Regions from separate parts of the Homo sapiens genome. Here region 2 is linked to region 1. Evidence: fine-mapped expression QTL. Tissue or cell type: whole blood. Region 1 holds a variant in brackets; the other region holds the start of a gene. All regions are shown on one strand. Distances are from middle to middle.

The links. PIP is the estimated chance that this variant, and not a neighbour inherited with it, causes the effect.
Region 2: it holds the start of POLE, and the variant in region 1 is fine-mapped to the expression of POLE in whole blood (TOPMed, PIP above 0.99).

The regions. Positions count from the first base shown.
Region 1 is chr12:132,647,747-132,655,848 of GRCh38, forward strand. POLE (DNA polymerase epsilon, catalytic subunit) reads right to left here. Exons shown (of 49, transcript NM_006231.4): 30 at 1,931-2,143; 31 at 1,560-1,769; 32 at 1,183-1,326. Among named protein-coding and RNA genes, the nearest start is that of P2RX2, 33 kb to the left of the region's middle. The variant G/A (reference allele first, on the strand shown) is at 3,287.
Region 2 is chr12:132,682,647-132,690,748 of GRCh38, forward strand. It overlaps POLE (DNA polymerase epsilon, catalytic subunit), which reads right to left and starts at 4,696. Exons shown (of 49, transcript NM_006231.4): 1 at 4,608-4,696. The coding sequence starts at 4,669. It overlaps PXMP2 (peroxisomal membrane protein 2), which reads left to right and starts at 4,941. Exons shown (of 5, transcript NM_018663.3): 1 at 4,941-5,146; 2 at 7,617-7,730. The coding sequence starts at 5,025. RefSeq lists a silencer at 4,147-5,456.

The sequences.
Region 1 (8,102 bases):
ACCACAGCACCACGCATCGAAAGGAAGGTGTAGAAACCCCACAGTCCCACCTGTTCTCTGTGGTCTCGATGCCTCTGCGTCCGCTTTCCTCTTGTTATCCGCCCACCTCGGTCTCCCAAAGTGCGGGGATTACAGGTGTGAACCACCACACCTGGCTCTGCGTCTACTTTCTATATGCACATTCTACTGAATCACCTGGCTGGAATCGAGTTTCACCTTCTCCAGAAAACCTCCTTGTGTAGGTACAAATATGCACACCTCATCTCCCCAACTACGTGTCACTTCTTACGTGATTCACAGCATCCAGTCAAGAAATGTGCTGAGCCGACACATTAACAACGGGGAGTTCGGGTGGAGATGCCATCTAAGAGCCTCAGCGCACTCATGGCCACATGAAAACCCTCGCAGTTTCTGCAGGTGGAAGAAGCCCAGCACAAAGACCCACCTACTGTAGGGTTCCATTTACATCAAATGCCCAAACAGGCAAACCCAGAGACAGGAAGTGGATCAGTGGCTACTGAGGGCTGGGGGAGGATGGTGACAGGTAAGGGATGCCAGGTTTCTTTTTGGAGTGATGAAAATATCCGAATGGGGGGGTGAGGGGAGGGGGAATATCAGGATAAACAGCTAATGCATGTGGGGCCTAATGCCCAGGTGACGGGGTGATGGGTGCAGCAAACCACCATGGCATGTGCTTACTTATGTAACAAACCTGCACTTTCTGCACATGGATCCCAGAAATCAAAGTAAAATTAAAAAAAAGAAAAAAAAAGAAAATGTCACTATTGACTGGCAATAGTCATGCCACTAAAAGTCATTGAATTCTGCACTTTAAATGGGTGAGTTGGATGGCGTAACTTTACATCCCAATAAAGCTGTTAACAACCAAAGAGCCTACGGAGACAGAGTTCACAATCTCTAACCAATGCCACTTGGTTTGTCCCCGCAACATGGACCTCGCGGGCAGACAAGCTCATCGTGACAAGGACACCAGCAGCTCCATTCCCGGCACTCGCTCTGCCCCAGGCTCGGTGCTCAGCGCTCACACACGTTGTTTTGAGGAATTCCTAGAACATCCCCATAAGGTACTGAGGAGATGGAGGCTGGAGGCCAGGCTAGATCATGGGAAAGCCACCTCAGGCTGCCCAGATGACTGCAGAGGCAGCACCAGCTCCTCCCTACCTTGCGATACGAAGCACCCTCCTCCGCTTTAGCGACTCGCTGGTTCACGTAGAACACACGGGGGATGCTCAGCCTGATGCAGTGCAAGTCACTGCCAACGAGCGCCCACAGCCTGAACAGGCCGGCCTGGCTGGTCTCGCTGATCTGAAAGGCCACACGGACATACAGCACATCACAGGACACACTGGAACCCACAGACGGGGCCACCTTCCAGGTAGCTTGCAGCTCCCAGCACAGGGCCTTAGGCCTCCCTACGATGGGCAGGAAACTCCAGGCCCACTCTAACCCTCCCATCCCAGACCTCAGGGCCCAGCTGGACACCCCCTCCCTGGGCCATCAGCAGAGCCACTGCCCTCCCCTTGGATCAAGGTCTATACCTGCACAATCTGCCACGGAAGGTCCAGGATGCTGCGGGCAGTTCTTCGCAAGAAGCTCCCCAGCCCCGTGGCAGGACCATCCCGGATGGCCCCGGGCCTGAGCACACCCTCTGCCGACTCCAGACGCTGCCTCTTCCTGCGGGCGAGGCGCTGCCGGGCCTGCAGCTGCCACTTCTTCTTGTGGAACCGGAGCCAGACAAGCCATTCCTCCTGGGATGGATGGTGAGCACAGCCAGTGTGCAAGTGGTGAGATGGGAATGCCCGCCATGACTTTCTCACAAGCAGCCTCCCTAGGGGTCAGGACGCATCTCGGGCTCCCTGGGCTGTGCAGACCCCTCAGAGACAGACAGTATCACAGCTGTGTGCCTTACCTGGCTGGTTCCCAGGGCGGGAGGCTGCCCCAAGATTTCCTGCCAGGGCACAGTCGGCGTGAGGTCCTGGGACTCCTCCTGGCTCTCCCAAAGAACTCGCTTCCTCTTCACAGTGACAGGGGCTGCTGGGTGAGGCAGCTTTACGAGGCCGAAGTCCTCCATGTCAGGAGCACTTGGCCTCGGACTGTCTTCTGAGGCCTCGGCCATCGTGACCTGGAAAGACCCAGTGAAGCCTTAAATCTCAGGATCTCGGGCTGCGCAGGGTGGCTCATGCCTGGAATGCCAGCACTTTGGGAGGCCAAGACAGGAGAATTGCTTGGGGCCAGGAGTTTGAGACCAGCCTGGGTAACAGCAAGACCCTGTCTCTACAAAATATATTACAAATTAGCCAGGCGTGGTAGTGCGCCTGTAGTCCCAAGCTACTTGGTAGGCTGAGGCAGGAGGATCACTTGAACCCAGGAGTTGGAGGCTGCGGCGAACTATGATCACACCACTGAACTCCAGCCTGGGCAAGTGAGACCTTGCCTCATAAAAACAAGCAAACAAAAATCTCAGGATCTCATCCCCACAAATTCTACTTCTCGAAATCTAGTATAAGTATATCACCTGAAATGGGATGTTCGTTTACACAAGTTTATTGAACCTTTAATAGTGAAGGCCGGGTGTGGTGGCTCACGCCTGTCATCCCAGCACTTTGAGAGGCTGAGGTGGGCGGATCACTTGAGCCCAGGAGTTTGAGACTAGCCTGGCCAACATGGTGAAACTCCGTCTCTACAAAAAATAGAAAAATTAGCTGGGTGTGGTTGTGTGGGCCTGTGGTCCCAGCTACTTGGGAGGCTGAGGTGGAAGGATCACTTGAGCCTAGGAGGTAGGGGTTGCAGTGAGCCAAGGTTGCGCCACTGCATTCCAGCCTGGGCGAGAGGGTGAGACCCTCTTTCAAAAAAAAAGTGAAAAGATCAAACCGAAAAATAAAACGTCACTCAATACCACCAATAAGTAAATCTTTGCATTTTGCCATGTTTGCTCCAGAATGCTTTTTGTAAGAAAGAAAATATTGCAAATAATGGGTACAGCCCTCTTCTGTCTGCCCCCACACACCTTTAAATTTTTACCACATGTCCACAGACACATGCCACAGCTGTAAGTTTTAACCTAAATAGTAACATGTGGGACACATCTGACTGCAACTTGTTTCCTTTTTTTTTTTTTTTTTTTTTGAGACAGAATCTCACTCTGTTGTCCAGGCTGGAGCGCAATGGCACGATCTCATCTCACTGCAACCTCGCCTCCTGGGTTCAAGCAATTCTGCCTCAGCCTCCCAAGAAGCTAGGATTACAGGCACCTGCCACCAAGCCC[G/A]GCTAATTTTTTGTTGTATTTTTAGTAAAGATGGGGTTTCACCATGTTGGCCAGGCTGGTCTCGAACTCCTGACCTCAAGTGATCCACCCACCTCAGCCTTCCAAAGTGTTGAGATTACAGGCGTGAGCCACATGCCTGTCCCTGCAACTTGTTTCTTTATTCAGCCATGTATTTTTGAGACTGACACCGGGTGAAACATGCACATATGGTTCGTTCATTGTAACTGATGTGAAATGATTTATCATATAAACACATCAGCCTACCTACCCATGACTTTGCAAATGAAGAATGACAAGCGCCTACTTTTTCAAAACTACAAACTGTGACTCAATGACCATCTCTGTATGTGTTGCCTGGTCCCGGAGAACAACCACCTCCACCTCTAGCACCAGGGATTTCCTACTTCCCACAATCTTGCTACTTGATGCCACCACACTTACTTGCCTTCAGTGTGACCTGCTATCTAAATACATCATGCTGCATTTACCTCATCAACAGTAAGGCTGAACATCTTGGCCCTGTGCAGGCAGCTCCCAAAATGGCCCAACGACCCCCACTTCCTGGTGTTCACACCCTGTGTGACTCCTTCCCTGAGTGGGGGTGGGACCCGGTGACTTGCCCGTAATGAACAGATTCCAGCAAAAGTCATGGAATGCCACTCCTGAGAGCAGCTATAAAACACTGTGGCTTCTGCCTGGCTGGCACTCTCTCAAAAGTCCAGTGCCATGCTGTGAGCTGTCCTGTGAAGAGCCCCATGGAGCAGGGGACTAAGGATAACGTCCAGACAAAGGCCAAGGAGGAACCGAGTCCTGCCATCCCCATGGGAGGGAGCTCGGAAGTGGCTCCTTCTCCAGTGGAGCCCTCGGATACACGAGTGCATTTAAGTTGCTAAGTTTTGGGGTTACTTGCTATGCAGCAATAGATAGCTAACACGTTTATGAGCCATTTCTAACTTTTATACATTCTAAACATCTTCAAAATGTGACTCAGGCCTTTGTTTCATGGTGACTTCTGTGCTACATGTAAGTTTGTGTGTGTTGACTTCCTATCAGGAAAGTTTTCAAACATACACGAAAGCACAGTAATGAGCTCCCATGTTCTTATCACCAGTGTCAACAATTATCAACATTCTGCCTTTCTTGTCACAGACTACACAAGATTTAACTTTTAATTAATTGATCATTCTTTCCCTTTGTGATGTTTTTCACATGTGCCTTAAAAAAGCCCTTCCCACCCCAGCATCATAGTCTCCTGAGTTGTTTACCAAAGATTGTAGTTTCCTTTTTTTTTTTTTTTTTTTTTTTAAAGACACAGGGGTCTCGCTCTGTCACCTAGGCTGGAGTGCAGTGGTCATCTTGGCTCACCGCAGCCTCAACCTCCCAGGCTCAAGTGATCCTCCCACCTCAGCCTCCCAAGTAGCTGGGACTACAGGCATGCACAACCATGCCTAATGTTGTGCCGGATTTTTTTTGTAGAGACGAGACCTCCCTATGTTGCCCAGGCTCGTCTGGAACTTCTGGGCTCAACTGATCCTCCTTCCTTGGACTCCCAAAGCACTGCAATTACAGGCATGAGCCATCACACTCAGCCTTAGTTTCACACTCAGTGTGATACAACAACTTACTTCTCCAAATATGAAAAACCATTTTCACCAGCATCACTCACTGCAGTCCACTCTCTCCTTAACGATCTGTGACCTACCAACTTCCGACTAACAGGGGAGTCTGTTTCTAGGCTCCCAATCGGCTCTACTGCTCTCCTCTCATCTTGTCAAGATGCCATGATAGTGTGTCTCGTTACATAGTAAGATCAACGTGCCCTCCTTATTCTTCAAAATTCTTTGGTTATTCTTATCCTTACCCTTTATATGAATTTTAGGATTCGTCTGTCAAGTTCTATCCAAAAAGCTTTTGGCAGATTCTTTTTTATTGGAATTACACTGAATTTTATGAATTAATATGGGGCAAACTGCCATATTTTAATACTGAGTCCTTTCATCTGTAAAGATGGTACCTCTTTTTGTTACTTAGGTAAATTTTTATATGTTCAATAAAGTTGTGTATAGGCCAGGCATGGTGGCTCACACCTGTAATCCCAGTGCTTTGGGGGGGGCCCAGGCAGGAGGATCACTTGAGCCCAAGAGTTTAAGATCAGCCTGGGCAACAGTGAGACCCAGCCTCTACAAAAAATACATAGCCAGGTGTGGTGGTGCACACTTGCAGTCTCAGCTACTCAGGAGGCTGAGGTGGGAGGATAACGTGAGATTAAGAGTTCTAGGCTGTAGGGAGCCATGATCTTGCCACCGCACTCTAGCCTGGGTGACAAAGGAAGACCATGTCTCAAAAAGAAAAAAGTTGTGTAATTTTTTCTGTAAAAGTCTTACACACATTGTTACCATGAATTTATTCCTTAGTACATTATTTATTGCTATTGTAAATGGTATCTTTCAAAAAATATTTTGTTTCTAGTATAAATGAAAGCAATAGACTTTTATATCTTACCTTGGTATCTAATTGTTGCTGAAATACATATAAGTTAACACAAAATCTAGGTTTCCTTACATTTTCTGTTAACAAATTACATCGCCTGTAAATAATAAGTTGATGTCTCCCTTTTCAATCCTTAATTCTTTTTCTGGTTTAATTATGCTGGCTAGGATCTCCAAACTGTTTTGAACAGAAGCAGTGGTTAACAGGCATCCATTTCTTACTCCTTACTTCAATGCTTCCAGTGTTTTGTGGTTAAGTATGAGGTCTGCTGTTAGGTTTCAAGAACACTTTATCAGGTTAAGAAACATCTCATCTATTCTGATTTTGATTGTTCAAACTTTAACATGAGCAGATGTTAAAGTTTTACCGCATGTTGTTTCTGCATCTATTGGAGATGATCTTACGAGCCTTCTCCTTTAATGATGAATTAGTGGATTTCTCCCAAGAAAAACTAACCTGGCAAATTCTAAAATTAAACAGTGCTTGCTATTCCCAGCATAAGTCCTAGTTGGTCATATTGTTATTGTTCATGTATGTTGATATTTTTTCATCTATTGTTCATGGCCCGTAACTTTCCTTTCCTGTTTTCAATTATGTTACCAAAGTAACAAGGATTGCCAAGGTTACCAAATGAGCTAAGGGTTTTTTTTTTCCTTTTTCTCTTAAAAATCATTTGGGTTTGATGTTTCTTTTACACTTATTTTTTTTCGTCTCTTTTTTTTTTCTTTTTGTGGAGAACGGGGTCTCGCTATATTGCCCAGGCAGGTCTCGAACTCCTGGGCTCAAGCTATCCTCCCGCCTCTGCCTCCCTGAGAGCTGGGATTACAGGTGTGAGCCACTGCGCCTGGCCTGTTTCTTTTTAAGTGTCAATTTCTGTAATGGTTAAAGTTCTATTCAGGTTTTTATTACTTCTTAGGTCAGTGCATAACTTGAGGATACTGTCCGTTCCATCTATGTTTTCCAACTGTTTAGCAGAAAATGGGAATCCTTCCATTTTTTTAGGCTTTACTATATCTATAATGATGTCTGTTTTCATTAAAATAAAAAACTCTGTCCTGAAAAAGATGTGACCAGCCAGGACAACATGACAAAACCTTGTCTCTACAAAAAATTACAAAAATTAGCTGGATGTGGTGGTGTGCGCCTATAGTCCCAGCTATGCAGGAGGCTGAGGCAGGTGGATCAATTGAGCCTGGGAGGTCAAGGCTGCAGTGAGCCATGACTGCGCCACTGTACTCCAGCCTGGGTGACACAATGAGACCCTGTCTCAAAAGAAAAGAAAAAGATGTGACTATTTTCCTAAGTCTTTTCAAAGAACAACATTTTGGTTGTATTGTTTGTTTCACTCATTCTGGCTCAATTTTGTAACCTCTTTCTTTTCTTTCTTGAGTTGGGTTCTCCCTGTGTTGCCCAGGCTGGGGTGAAGTGCCTATTCACAGGTGCCATCATAGCCCACTACAACCTCAAATTCCTGGGCTCAAGCAATCCTCCTGCCTCTCAGCCTTCCGAGTAGCTAGGACTATAGGTGTGCACCACCATGCCTGGTTACCTTTATAACTCTTTATAACTTCTGTCTACTTCCTCTGATGGATCTGTTGTTCTCTAACTTTTTCAGTTGGAAACTTAATTTTCTATTTGTTTTTCTTTACTAATACATGCATTTAGATATATAAATGCGTATACAAGTCCTGTTTAACTGCATACTACAAATTTTAATAGCATTTGTATTTACATTCAGTTCCAAGTATTGTCTAAGTTCTATGACTTTTTTGATCCACAAGTTATAAATGTGTTTTTTTTTTCTTAAATTTCCAAACATGGTCTGTATTTAAGTTATCTAGAATTGGTTGCAGCTTACTCTGTGGTATATATATGGTCATTATTTTATGTATTCTTGAAAAGGATAGGTATTCTCTAATTTTAGTGCAAGACTACATTTGTTCACTAAATGTATTATAGCTAGTGACTAAATCTAGTTAGTTGATTGTGTCATTCCAAACATATTTTTGCTGATTTTTGGTCTGCTCCAACTATCAATTGAGGGAGGGATGTTAACATCTCCCAAACTGATTGGAGGTAAATTCTTCTTATAATTAGGTAAATGTTTACATTATTTAATGTGAGGCTACATTGTTACAATTAGTATATATTTCCAGAGAATTGTGACTTTCAGTATTATGTAACAATAGTCCTTATGTTTCCTAATACTTTTGGCCTAAAGAGTATTTTGTCTGGTATTAATACAGCCACATCAGCTTTCTTTTGGTTAACATTTACCTGGTATACGTATTTTTTACTCCTTTTGCTTTTCCTGCGTCCTATCTTT
Region 2 (8,102 bases), 35 kb after region 1:
AATTACCTCAAAAAAAGGTTGAGGGCCAGGCGCAGTGGCTCACAACTGTAATCCCAGCACTTTGGGAGGCCAAGGAGGGTGGATGACTTGAGGCCAGGAGTTTGAGACCATCCTGGCTAACATGGTGAAACCCCGTCTCTACTAAAAATACGAAAAATTAGCCGGGCGTGGTGGCGGGCGCCTGTAGTCCCAGCTACTCGGGAGGCTGAGGCAGGAGAATGGCGTGAATCCAGGAGGCAGAGCTTGCAGTGAGCTGGGATCATGCCACTGCACTCCAGCCTGGGCGACAGAGCGAGACTCCGTCTAAAAAAAAAATAAAATAAAAAAAGAACAAGATAAAAAAAGAAAGGAAGACCCTTCCTTTGTCTGAAGGTATTCCTTGGATCACCTTCAACTCAAGAGCAGAATGACCATATTCCAAGACTAGGATCCTTACTTCTCATGAAAGATTATAACCACTTGTGGTAGGCAGGCAGGATGACACCCCCCATGAAAGACCCACATCCTAATCCCCCAAACCTGTGAATGTTATCTTACAAGACAAAAGGGTCTTTGCAGATCTGACTAAATTAAGGGCCTTGAGATTCTGCTTAGCTGGGTGGGCGCAGTGTAATCACAAGAATCCTTGTAGAGTGAGGCAGGAGAGCTAGAGTCAGGAAGGAGAAAGGGATGGGAGAGAGAGGGTAGGGGGGAGAGGAGATGCAACCCTTGGTTCTGAAGATGAAGAAGCAGCAAGGAAACAGATTCTCCCCCGGGAACCATCACAATAAATATAACCAACCAGACACTTTCATATTACGACTTCTGACTTCTAAAACCGTAAGAGAATAAATTTATATAGTCACTAAGTGATCATGTGTTACTGCAGCAATAGGAAACTGATACACCACCATACTGTATAATAAAGGTTTAATCTTTTAAATAGTTGAATGCACCCGTAATCAAAAACACAGAAAAACTATATTCCAAATCTTGCTAGAGAACAGCCTCAGTTCTGAGTCCCAGATCTTTATCAAAATCAAGAGTGAATGAAGTGCTATTTACGAGGCATCACCTCTTAACAGGGGCGCACGGCCCTCTATGCCAGTCCTCCAAATATCCTTGCCTCAAGTAAGTTGGATTAAGTAGACTAGAAAACTGCTCACTGGGACCATATTTCCTCCCAAAACTGCTTTCTCTGAGCTGTGTATCTCACTTTTAATCCAGGGACAGTAAGAAATCTGAAAAATGGGGATAAGTGTCACACAGGGAGCTACCATCGACTGGTTACTATATCACACCGTCCCAGTACTCCACACAGGCTCTCATTCACAGAGAGCTACCATTGACTGGTTACTATATCACACCGTCCCAGTACTCCACACAGGCTCTCATTCACAGAGAGCTACCATTGACTGGTTACTGTATCACACCGTCCCAGTACTCCACACAGGCTCTCATTCACAGAGAGCTACCACTGACTGGTTACTGTATCACACCGTCCCAGTACTCCACACAGGCTCTCATTCACAGAGAGCTACCATTGACTGGTTACTGTATCACACCGTCCCAGTACTCCACACAGGCTCTCATTCACAGAGAGCTACCATTGACTGGTTACTGTATCACACCGTCCCAGTACTCCACACAGGCTCTCATTCACAGAGCTACCATTGACTGGTTACTATATCACACCGTCCCAGTACTCCACACAGGCTCTCATTCACAGAGAGCTACCATTGACTGGTTACTGTATCACACCGTCCCAGTACTCCACACAGGCTCTCATTCACAGAGCTACCATTGACTGGTTACTATATCACACCGTCCCAGTACTCCACACAGGCTCTCATTCACAGAGCTACCATTGACTGGTTACTATATCACACCGTCCCAGTACTCCACACAGGCTCTCATTCACAGAGAGCTACCATTGACTGGTTACTGTATCACACCGTCCCAGTACTCCACACAGGCTCTCATTCACAGAGAGCTACCATTGACTGGTTACTGTATCACACCGTCCCAGTACTCCACACAGGCTCTCATTCACAGAGAGCTACCATTGACTGGTTACTGTATCACACCGTCCCAGTACTCCACACAGGCTCTCATTCACAGAGAGCTACCATTGACTGGTTACTGTATCACACCGTCCCAGTACTCCACACAGGCTCTCATTCACAGAGCTACCATTGACTGGTTACTATATCACACCGTCCCAGTACTCCACACAGGCTCTCATTCACAGAGAGCTACCATTGACTGGTTACTATATCACACCGTCCCAGTACTCCACACAGGCTCTCATTCACAGAGAGCTACCATTGACTGGTTACTGTATCACACCGTCCCAGTACTCCACACAGGCTCTCATTCACAGAGAGCTACCATTGACTGGTTACTGTATCACACAATCCCAGTACTCCACAGGCTCTCATTCACAGAGCTACCATTGACTGGTTACTATATCACACCGTCCCAGTACTCCACACAGGCTCTCATTCACAGAGAGCTACCATTGACTGGTTACTATATCACACCGTCCCAGTACTCCACACAGGCTTTCATTCACAGAGCTACCATTGACTGGTTACTGTATCACACCGTCCCAGTACTACACACAGGCTCTCATTCACAGAGAGCTACCATTGACTGGTTACTGTATCACACTGTCCCAGTACTCCACACAGGCTCTCATTCACAGAGAGCTACCATTGACTGGTTACTGTATCACACCGTCCCAGTACTCCACATATGCTCTCATTCAGTTTTCATGACAACCCCTACGAGGGAGGCCACTGGTGTCCCCATTTCACACAAGAAGAAACGCAGGCAAACAGCACCCACTGCCTCCTGGGGCACACTCACCTCCCAGGACTGTTTTAAGGATGAGATGAGGTAACCCACATAAAGCATGTAAGGTAAAAGCCATCACTTGTACTTATCCCAGCAGCAGCCTTCCCCCTGCCTGGAGGCCATCACTGAGCTTGGGGCAGGGCAGTGGAGTGGAGCACGTGAGTGCAGTCCTGTGTCCTGAAGCAGGGCAGTCAGTAACCGTCTCTAAGCTCCAAGTTCCAACACACCATGTAGACCCTAAGGGTACCTGCCTCTCTAGGGCTTGCCTGATATGGACAGACAGCGATGAGCACAACAGCAGTTAGGGATCCTTACCACTTGGTTTCTCCTCTGGGAAGAATTTTGTTCAGCTAAGTGTCTGTAAAAAGCTTCACGTTCTCACACGTTTTTTCTATTTTTTTTTTTTTGAGACAGAGTTTCATTCTTTGTTGCCCAGCCTGGAGTGCAATGGCGCGATCTCGGTTCACCGCAACCTCCGCCTGCCGCGTTCAAGTGATTCTCCTGCCTCAGCCTCCTGCGTAGCTGGGATTACAGGCATGCGCCACCACGCCCCGCTAATTTTGTATTTTTTTAGTGGAGACGGGATTTCTCCATGTTGGTCAGGCTGGTCTCGAACTCCTGACCTCAGGTGATCCTCCTGCCTCGGCCTCCCAAAGTGCTGGGATTACAGGTGTGAGCCACCGCGCCGGGCCTCATCCGTTTTCTGCTTATGGCAGGCCAGTCCTCCGGTCATGTTTACCGTTTGCTCTGGCCACCAAGCAGCCGCGTCTTATCCTTGCTCTATTTTTTTTGAGACTGGGTCTGGCTCCGTCGCCCAGGCTGGAGTGCGGTGGCGCGATCCCGGCTCACAGCAGCCTTGACCTGCCGGGCTCAGGTGAACCTCCGGCTCGGATTCGGGAGTATTAATAGCTGGGACCTCGGGCGCGCACCACCAGCCTGTCTAATTTTTCTTGTTTTTACAAGAGAAGGGCCGGGCGCGGAGTCTCACGTCTGTAATCCCAGCACTTTGGAAGGCCGAGGCGGGCGGATCACCTGAGGTCAGGAGTTCGAGACCAGCCTGGCCAACATGGTGAAACCCGGTCTCTACTAAAAATACAAAAACTAGCCGGGCCTGGTGGCGGGCGCCTGTAATTCCAGCTACTCGGGAGGCTGAGGCAGCGGGATCGCTTGAACCCGGGAAGCAGAGGTTGCAGTGAGCCGAGATCGCGCCACTGCACTCCAGCCTGGGCGACAGAGCGGGACTCCCTGCCCAAAAAAATAAAACAGAGGAGACGAGGTCTCTCTCTGTAGCCCAGGCTGATCTAGAACAGGATCCTGGGCTCCAGCGATCCGCCCGCCTCGGCCTCCCCCAGCGCTAGGCCCCCAGGCAGGGTCCCCGGCCCCGCCCCTCCCCGCACCCTCCCCAGCCGCGCGTCCACCCCGCAGGGCCTGGCCCGGGTCCCGCCGCTCTCATCGCCCCCGCCGCGCGGCAGGTCCCAAACGCAGCTGCGCGGAAGGCGAGGCCCGAAAAACCTCAGAAAGAGCCGAGCAGGGAAAGGCCGCGCGGCCCGCCTCGTTTCCCCGCAAAGAAGCCGCGCCCGTAGCGCCTCCGCCCGCCCCGAGCCCCTCCGTCGGCGGTCGGGGCGCGCCGCCCTACCCCAGTCAGGCGCGGCGAGTGCGGGCGGCTGCGGGAACCGGGCCTCCCTCCCGCCTCGGCGGCGCCAGCCGAGGACGGCCCCATGGCACCCTCCGGAGGGCCGGCCCGAGAGCCTCAGGAGGGCGCCCCTCACCTGCTGGCCTCGCCATCCGCGCCTGGGTCCGCGCGCCGCCGCCCGCCGCTCCTCAGAGACATGGAGCCGTTGGCTACCACCTCTGCTTCAGGGGAGAAATTTGGCGCGCTCCCACCCAGACTCGCGAGAGCCGGAAATGCCGCCGTCCATCAAGAGGCGCGCTCCGCCCCTCCCCCGCCCCCCGAGGCGCTCCAATTGGCGCCGGCGCCCGGCGGGGGAGGTGGCCGGCAGGGACCGGGGAAAAGTGTGTGGTAGGCGCGCGCGGCGCACCGTGGGGTTGGGACCGGGCGGCGCTGCGGGCCGCGGTGGGGCCGGAAATGTCAGGCGGTCCCCACTCCGCTCTCGGCGCCTCGGGCTCCGCGCCCGGCCAGCCTGAGGTGGGGTCGGTGCCCCCGGCGGCACGGCGCTGGGGAGGCGATGGCGCCGGCCGCGTCCAGGCTGCGGGCCGAAGCCGGGCTCGGGGCGCTGCCGCGGCGGGCGCTCGCCCAGTACCTGCTCTTCCTGCGGCTCTACCCGGTGCTCACCAAGGCGGCCACCAGGTGAGCGGGGGCGCGGGAATCGGACGCCGCCCCGGCCCCAGGTCGGCCGCAGCGGCGCGGGGCCTGGACGGGAGCGCCGGGCCGGGACCAGGCTGGGGGCGCGCCCGGGTCAGAACCCCCGGAGCGGGCGCCCTCCGACCCGGCGCTGAACTTCCCGCGGCGACACCCGCGTCCGCAGTCAGCGATTGTGAGGCGCCTTGCGGATCCCGCCCTCCCAGCGCGTGGAGGGCCCGCCCAGACCCGGGGGTCGGCGCTGAGGTTCCACCCAAGGACCCAACAGGGGCCCCGCGCGCCCGGGGAAGCCACGGCAAGGGGAGCGGGTCCGCAGGCGCGGGTGAAGACAGGGCGAGGGGAGCGGGTCTGCGGGGCGCGGGTGAAGACAGGGCGAGGGGAGCGGGTCTGCGGGGCGCGGGTGAAGACAGGGCGAGGGGAGCGGGTCTTGGGGGCGCGGGTGAAGACAGGGCGAGGGGAGCGGGTCTGCGGGGCGCGGGTGAAGACAGGGCCAGGGGAGCGGGTCTGCGGGGCACGGGTGAAGACAGGGCCAGGGGAGCGGGTCCTCATGGAGCGTGTGGAGACAGGGCCAAGGGAGCGAGTCTGCGGGGCGCGGGTGAAGACAGCGCCAGGGGAGCGGGTCTTGGGGGCGCGGGTAAAGACAGGGCCAGGGGAGCGGGTCCTCATGGCGCGGGTGGAGACAGGGCCAAGGGAGCGGGTCTGCGGGGCGCGGGTGAAGACAGGGCCAAGGGAGCGGGTCTGCGGGGCGCGGGTGAAGACAGGGCGAGGGGAGCGGGTCTGCGGGGCACGGGTAAAGACAGGGCCAAGGGAGCGGGTCTGCGTGGTGCGGGTGAAGACAGGGCCAGGGGAGCGGGTCTGCGGGGCACGGGTGAAGACAGGGCGAGGGGAGCGGGTCTTGGGGGCGCGGGTGAAGACAGGGCCAGGGGAGCGGGTCTGCGGGGCACGGGTGAAGACAGGGCGAGGGGAGCGGGTCTTGGGGGCGCGGGTGAAGACAGGGCCAGGGGAGCGGGTCTGCGGGGCACGGGTGAAGACAGGGCGAGGGGAGCGGGTCTTGGGGGCGCGGGTGAAGACAGGGCCAGGGGAGCGGGTCTGCGGGGCACGGGTGAAGACAGGGCCAGGGGAGCGGGTCCTCATGGAGCGTGTGGAGACAGGGCCAAGGGAGCGAGTCTGCGGGGCGCGGGTGAAGACAGCGCCAGGGGAGCGGGTCTTGGGGGCGCGGGTAAAGACAGGGCCAGGGGAGCGGGTCCTCATGGCGCGGGTGGAGACAGGGCCAAGGGAGCGGGTCTGCGGGGCGCGGGTGAAGACAGGGCCAAGGGAGCGGGTCTGCGGGGCGCGGGTGAAGACAGGGCGAGGGGAGCGGGTCTGCGGGGCACGGGTAAAGACAGGGCCAAGGGAGCGGGTCTGCGTGGTGCGGGTGAAGACAGGGCCAGGGGAGCGGGTCCACATGGAGCGTGTGGAGACAGGGCCAAGGGAGCGAGTCTGCGGGGCGCGGGTCCGCACGGCGCGGGTGGAGACACGGCCAGGGAAGGTGTTTTGAGAAGGTGACATTGAACAGGCTGTGTAAAGAAGTGGAGCAGAGGCTCTCCTGGCACAGGGAACAGCAGGGCAAAGGTCTCTGTTAGGTTTTGAAGGGAAGGCCGGCGTTAAAGAAAGGCGGAGAGAGGTGCAGCTTGGACTCAGTCCCGAGGGAGGGAAGATCTGTGTGTGGAGAAAGTGAACCCTGAGCAAGAGGCAGGAGATGTGAAGGGAATCGCCAGGGATCTGATCGAGAAGGTGTCTAGGTCCGTGCTAGGAATTTTGGATTTTATAGTCCAGAGAGCTTCTCAGAAGGCAAATACAAACCAAGGCCTGGAGGGAGCCACTGGGCCTGTTCCACCTTTTTATGGAAATTTTTATTGTGATAATTGTAGATTCACAAACAGTTACAAGACTAACATGGAGAGATTCCTTGCACACCTTCCCAGTGTCCCCCATTGGTTACATTCTGTGAAACGTAGTGCAGTATCGACCAGGGCATTGCGTGGACACAGTCCACAGATCCTATTCGGATTTCTCCATTTTTCTTGTAGCTGTATCTGTTCTGTACAGTTTTATCACATCTGTACATTCTTGTGTTCACTACCACAGTCAAAATGCAGAACAGCGTCATGATAGGGCTGTCCTGTTGCCCGTTCATAACCACACAGCTTCCCAACTCCCAAACTGCCAAATTATAGTATAACATCACAGCCAGGATGTTGACATAGATACTGGAAAGCCACTTGTCCTTACCTGTGTGTTTAAGTCCACCGTCTCCACCTTTTGATACAAGAACTATACATTGCAGCCGCTTTAACAAGAATTCCTACCCCCCGCCCATCTGCTGCATGGCCTCAGAACGGCCCTGCTAATTCACCTATGGGAAAGGGACACCCTCCTGCTGGTCACTGCTGTTTTCTGATGACCTCCCTCTCCACAGTGGCATTTTGTCAGCACTTGGGAACTTCCTGGCCCAGATGATTGAGAAGAAGCGGAAAAAAGAAAACTCTAGAAGTCTGGATGTCGGTGGGCCTCTGAGATATGCCGTTTACGGGTGAGTGCCATACAAGGGGTGGGTTTACCTTGTAGCCGCTGAGTGCAACCAAGCTGGGCACCAAAACCGAGTAGTTGGAGTACTCTTATTTGGAAATATAATTTTTTAAAAACCATTGTAGTAATCATCATGGGAAAAAACTCGAATGGTTCATATAGTTTGTATGGCATATATACGCATACGTGGTTTTTTTTGTTTTTTCTTTTTTTTTGGAGACAGAGTCTCACTCTGTCACCCAGGCTTACTGCAACCTCTGCCTCTCTGGTTCAAGTGATTCTCCTGCCTCAGCCTCTCAAATAGCTGGGATTACAGGCACACACCGCCATGCCCAGCTAATTTTTGTTATTTTTAGTAGAGATGGGGTTTCACCAT